Homo sapiens: one gene and its partner. The protein of the gene in region 1 interacts with the protein of each later gene in a pairwise test. Each region holds a gene or a part of one and is shown on either strand. Other genes may lie near its edges.

Region 1 (3,825 bases):
TTGTACTACTTTTGACCTTCTGTAAGTCTAAAATGACCTCAAAACAAAACAAAAAAATTAAAATATCTTTTAAAAGATTATACTATGTTTTGGCTTTAAAGCAGAAATTTATAGTACATGCAGAAAGGCACAGAAACAGAGTGCTGGGAAGCAATCTGATATTAGTGAAGCAAATTTTCATTAGTGCAAGGAGGCATTTTCATATTTTTCTTGCCGAGTGTTTTCCAGGACCGAATAGATGAAGTTGTGTGACATTTTGTAACTGAGACACATGCAAACAGATCTGTCACAGGCCAAGCCAGGCAACTGAAGGCAGGAGAAATTGCCAATCCTTCAGAATAAATGAAGCCCTTTCAAAACCGAGGGTGATATGCAAGATTGTCATTCAAAAAGCATGTCAGAGTTCACTTTGCGGCATGTTTTTCTTGAATTATTTTTTTTAAAACACCACCACCAAATACACTTAAAATTGGTAGTAGTTTTGAATTGATTAAAATATGAAAAATGCAGTGCTTGGTGGGGTGTTTTATTCTTGCAATTATCATCATGAATTTATTTTAATGTCTTTTGTCCTAGACTCTAGACCCAAAACTGTAGTGTTCTCAGTTGAGTAAAAGGCAGAGGGGTGAAAAATTAAACCTACACTGTAAGCTCTGTGTGCGGTCGAGACTGAACCTGACTTACCACTATATCCCCAATCCTTCTCATCTGCCTGACATATATATTTGTTAGATTAACAAATAAGTGAATGGATAGAATGGAATTGACCCAGGAAAAATGGATTTGCTCAGCAGAGCACTCAGAAGTCAGGGAGTTGGTTCAGATGCTCTTCTGAACTTCATTCCCTCTTCTACTCCGAACTTACATGCCACCTTTGGCACAGATTTTTTCAAAAGACGTCTCATCATTCTTTTCAGACTGCTCTTTTCTGAATGTACAGCCACCAAGGTGGCTTGAATATTCTTTGCCAATGACTAGTTACTGGAAAAGTGGTAGAACTAGTTTCTCTCAAACAATACCCCAATTCATTCCTAGGGGAGTTCTGGCTGTCCAGAGAAGAGCAGGTGCAGAAAGTCTTGATGTTGTGCCCAAGGGCAGGCAAAGAACCATTGTCTGACCTCATGTGACCTCCAGCGTTCTCACCCTGGCCACTGCTCCAGGAAGAATCAGAGCCTCTCTAAATCATAGATGAAAGTCAGCTTTGATTTAGAAGAATGGGCTATTGATAATTCTCCATTCTAGGAGTTGGGAATAAGGACGATACATATGTGAAAGACTAGCAATTATTTCAGAATATCAAGCTCTTTAAAGCAGAAAAAGAGCAAGCATGCATAAAAATTCAACATGTTTTGAAAAAACATGAATCTGTGTAACAAAATAATATACAGACTATTCTGCCAACATAATCTCGTGGCTATATTACAGGAGATTTTAAAATAATATAGTTAATTATCAATCACCTGCGGCCTCTGAACACATCTTTCAACCTCAATAAACGCCATCATAATAATGACCAAAATATCTTCATTTCTGCAACTTAAGTTGCACGGAAAATAACTTTTCCACTCGGCAGTAATCGTGGATCATGGTAAATGTTAAATTGAAATAGTGATTTTAAAACTCCGTGAATTCATGGTGACACCAACCTGAAGTTCAACATTTATCTGCCTAAAAAGTGAGCAATACAAATGCAATTTCGAACAGTCTCTCTTCATCTACTAAAAAGAACTGTTTCTATGCATTTTGGAAGCATTCCATTATCTACAAACAACTGGCCCAATTTGGGTGGTTTTTTTTTTTTTTTTTTAGATGGAGTCTCGCTCTGTCACCAGGCTGGAGTACAGTGGTGCAATCTCCGCTCACTGCACCATCCGCCTCCCAAGTTCAAGTGACTCTCCTGCCTCAGCCTCCTGAGTAGCTGGGACTACAGGTGCCCGCCACCATGCCCAGATAATTTTTGTATTTTTAGTAGAGATGGGGTTTCACCATGTTGGCCAGAATGATCTTGATCTCTTGACCTTGTGATCCACCTGCTTTGGCCTCCCAAAGTGCTGGGATTACAGGCGTGAGCCAATGCGCCCGGCCTGGCCTCATTCTTATTTATTCCTCACTGTAGGTTCCTAGGGATCTCTGAGTGTCAGCTCCATTGTGGCTGGAATGGTGTTCTTTTGAATATGCACTTGAAGAGGTCAGAAGAAGAGGTGAATTAAAGCTTGACTCTAGACTCAGAACCGGGTTTCAATGTCAGCTCTACCACTTCCTAGCTGTGTCTCCTCCACATGTTATTAAATTCTCTAAGCCTCAGTATCCTTTTTATTAAATGGGGAGAATAACAGTACCTAGCTTATAGGGTTAGTAAGATGATTACATGAGTTAATTCATATAACAACTCCAGCCTATAGTAAATGCTCCCTAAATGTTAGCTGCTAATATCGTTGTTACAGAAGTCATATAGGCGTACCTAGAGATGGGGTGCTACAGGTGTACATCCTTAGGGATAGCAGTAATTTAGTTCTATTGGTAATGCTCATTGGCTTCCCCCAGTTGGTCTCAATTAGTGAGTATCCCCTTATGTTAAAACAGAGAGGGAATAAAGTTGGGATGCATTTACTATGGAGGGTGCTCAGTCACCATTTCTCCCTCCTTCTACTTACAGGTTTAAGATAGGCGACACTGCTGTGACGAATGTCGTTTAGCAGCTGATCTCTGGGAGTGATTTCCACCAATGGGGGTGGCCTGTTTCTCGGCACTGGCTTGAGCGTTTTGATGACATCTTTGAGGTTGGTTTTCTCGGGTGGTTCTCTGGCTTCCGGCATCCGAGATTTGCGCTGGATTCTCTTCAGCTTCACCACCCGGAAGGAGTCAGGGTCTGTCCTGTACTTCGGGGCCTGCGATGGCTTTTTCATCATTTCACTGCGTTGACTAAAGGGGACATTTTGGGGGTTGGGAGGCCGAGGTGGCGGTGGCTGGAAGAATTCCTGCATTCTGGAATCTGGCTTGGGTCCTCCCAACAGCTCCCACATCCCAGGGGGCAGCCCCAACCCATTCTCTAACATGGCTATCAGCTTCTTCTGTTCCTTGAGTTGCTGCTGTTTTTGCTCTTCCTGTCGTTTCTGCCTTTGTTTATCCTGATTCCTGGTGAGCAGATTAGTGACCACCATTCTGGGACCCGGAAGCTCAAAATGGTAGCCCATCTTCAGGAGAGTGTTGTTTGCCTTCAAAAGCCTGGCTATTTCCATTTCAGCATGGTGACCCAACATGTGCCTCTGATTGTGAAACCGAAGCTCAGTTAGCGTCTCATTAAACTGGAGACACCTCATGATGGCCACAATCCCTTTACCTGTGATGAAATTGGACTCGATGTTGAGAGTGGTGATGCTTCTATTTTCACGCAACATGTTAGCCAAGGCAAATGCTACATTCTCATCTGCACCCACATTGGCTAAACTGAATGTTTTGATGTGCTTGTTTTTCTTCATTGCATTGACAAAGTCCAGTAACATTTCTTTGGGGATGTTTTCAATGTTGTTCAGGTTGAGTTCCTTCATGTCAGGATCATTTTTCCTAACTCTCCTCAAGCTCCCATCCAGGTCTGTCTGGTTTCCTGAAGGCCTTGTACTTACCTTCAAAAAGCTGGTGTCTAGAGCTAACTTCTTAGGATCTAATTTCGATATTTTTTTCTCACTTTGTTCTTGGGCCTCTGGTCTGTCTCTCTGTTCTTTGAATGCTTTGTCAGTTACCTGCTGGCAGTTGTTCTCACAATTTCTAATTTGTTCCTTTGCTTTGCCTTCCTCTTCTCTGTTCGTTTCTTCACTCTCTTCACCA
Region 2 (2,579 bases), about 26 Mb from region 1:
AGCTGACCTGGGGCTCTCCGAGACCCAGACATAGCCCCAAGACCTGACTGGCCAGGTGGGTAAGGCTGCTGACCCACCATGTCCTCTTTCCTTTGGCCTCTTGTCCCGCTGCCCATGCTTTCCTGGACCGGATAGGCCTCTCTGTCAGTGCAGATGTCCCGTAGGGTCCGGGCCCTGTTTGGAGCCATGAACTTCTGGGCCATCATCATGTACAACCTTGTGAGCCTGAACAGCCTCAAATTCACAGAGCTGGTTGCCCGGCGCCTGCTACTCACAGGTGAGGGACAGGGGTGTGGGGATACAGAAGGTGCCAGGCATCAGCCTCAAGGACCGTGACCTTCCAAAATGCCTCCTATCTCCCTCATCACCCCTGGGACTCAGAAGGGAGGGCCCATCAAGCGGGGAGAGGGGTGGGAAGACAAAAGTCGCTGAGGATGCAGTGCTGCTCCTGAGCATCTATGACTCCCTCCCCACACAGGGTTCCCCCAGACCACGCTGTCCATCCTGTTTGTCACCTACTGTGGCGTCCAGCTGGTAAAGGAGCGTGAGCGAACCTTGGCACTGGAGGAGGAGCAGAAGCAGGACAAAGAGAAGCCGGAGTAGGAGGGAGCGGGTAGAGGGATGGGCTCTGCTCAGCTATTCTTGGGCCAGATGGGGCCTGACCGATAGAATAAAAGACTTTTCTACAACAGCTTGGCTGTTCCCTGACCCTTCTTCCCACAGTCCCCTGGCTCCACGTCCATAGTGGCTGAGGAGCTGGAGGCTCTAGGCCTCAGGCAGGGGAGGGTTCCCACCCATAGGGTGGAGGGGACACCAGATGGAGAGCAGAGACCATCGACCTTGGCAGCCCAACAGCAGAACACTGAAGCCCCAAGTCTTCAACACACCTGCTCACTGACTCTTGGAGCACTGATGCAGACCCTGAGCTGCTTGCTCAGAAGGCACTTTATTCTTCCTAAAGAAGGAGACATATCTGCACTGTACACTGCACTTGATGGGGATGCTCCCATCGGACAGACGAGAAGGCTGAGTCCTGTGGGGAACTTTGCCAGCACACTCAGCTAGGCTGGGGCAGGGCCAGCACACGGCCTGGGATACCGCCCTGTGGTTCTGGTTCATGGATCAAGACAACCTAGGGGGATATGGCAACACTGGAGAAGCCTCTAGTTTCTCACCCTTGCCCAAAAGTCCAGGACTAAGCAGCACTTCCCTTTCCTTGGCTGACGCAGCCCCTGAGGCACCATAACTGGATCCAGGTAGACTCTGGCCTCTCCTAGCCTCTTTTCTGGAGCCCCCACAAGGCCAGGCCAGTGAGGGTCGCAGGATGGGAGGGGTGCTTAGTTCAGTCTGCCTGAGCTGGTCACATCTTAGTCAGGCACAGCACATTGAGCCGCACTGGTAGGAAGGTGGCACCTGCTGCATAGGCGATCTCCCGCAGGACACCCTCCCATTTCTTCTCCTCCTCGTTATACCTGGGGATGAGAGAGAGTGGGGACAAGGATGGAGAGCTTGGTCAGCTGAGTCCAGAGTGGAACGCAGCAGAGAGGGGTGGCTGAGGGCACTTGGCCCATCTCTAGGGAGATCTGCTCCTGAAAATCCCCAGGCTCTGGGAAAGGAGACCCCCCACAAGACCCACCCCAAGGAACACCCACCCCACACTCCAGGAAGGGTCTTTCTCCCCAGGAAAGATCACCTCTCAAGGGGTGTTCCCATATTCCTCAAAGTTCCCCTCCAGGAAGGTCTACACTGCCCACACCACCCCATCAATGTCCTCTCCTTGAGAATTTCCATGCTCCATTTCTACTAAGTCTCACGTCTCAGCCTCCGGCAGCACTGCTCCCCAGGGGCTGCCTGCAGCAGTGCAGATGGCTGCAGGTTCAGGAAGGAGATGCCCCAGAGGCTAAAGTTTCCTTCTCCCACCCCCACAAAGGACCAGCCATAGAGAGCAATGGTTCTGAAAGGCCAGGGCTCCAACTGTTTCCCAGCCCTAGTGGCAGCCCTCCCTCCAGACCAAGCACCCGGAAGGCAGGAGAGAAGAAAATCCGGCTGCTATTTGGGCCCTGTTTCTGTGAGTCTATGACCTAAGCTTGGGTCTGCTCCCATCTGCAACACTGTTGCTGCTCCACAGTGGGGCATGGTGTCATCTGTGCAAGCCCAGACTTTCCCAACAAACTGGTGAGAAACGGCCAAGCAGGGTATGTTGGCTATTCCTCCCTACAGGACTCCCTAGAAGAGGGATCCGCTTTGCCCCCAGAGGAGCTTGCCCAGTGCCTTGGTACCCCACCATGGTGCTATGGGGTGTCAGCCTTGCTCATGATGCCCCCTTGCCTCCCCAGGGTGGGACTCACCTCCAGATGTCATTGAGCTCTGTGGGAACCAGCTCTCCAGACTCCGTCTCCAGTGTGGCAAAGCCACCAATGGCATAGAGGGTACCCACCAGGCTGACCAGGCTGAGTGAGCTACGCTCCTGTGGGAAGGCCTCGAAGGGTGCCCACCTGGGGGTGTGTGAGAAGGTGCATCATTGGGATGCCTCGGCAAGCCCAGTGACTGTCCCTGCCACCCAGCACCCACAGCTCCAA

What was found.
Region 2: the proteins of LMOD3 (region 1) and KLHL40 interact in a two-hybrid assay, tested with the Homo sapiens proteins (one large-scale study listed by BioGRID).

What each region holds. Positions count from the first base shown.
Region 1 is NC_000003.12:69,116,045-69,119,869, forward strand, and holds part of LMOD3 (leiomodin-3), read right to left. Parts: coding exon 2,655-3,825; intron 1-2,654. UniProt on the Homo sapiens protein: Essential for the organization of sarcomeric actin thin filaments in skeletal muscle. Increases the rate of actin polymerization.
Region 2 is NC_000003.12:42,690,775-42,693,353, reverse strand, and holds the end of KLHL40 (kelch-like protein 40), read right to left. Parts: intron 2,496-2,579; coding exon 2,349-2,495; intron 1,473-2,348; coding exon 1,361-1,472; 3' UTR 810-1,360; downstream 1-809. Other genes in the region: HHATL (protein-cysteine N-palmitoyltransferase HHAT-like protein), read left to right, coding at 136-277, 479-603. UniProt on the Homo sapiens protein: Substrate-specific adapter of a BCR (BTB-CUL3-RBX1) E3 ubiquitin ligase complex that acts as a key regulator of skeletal muscle development.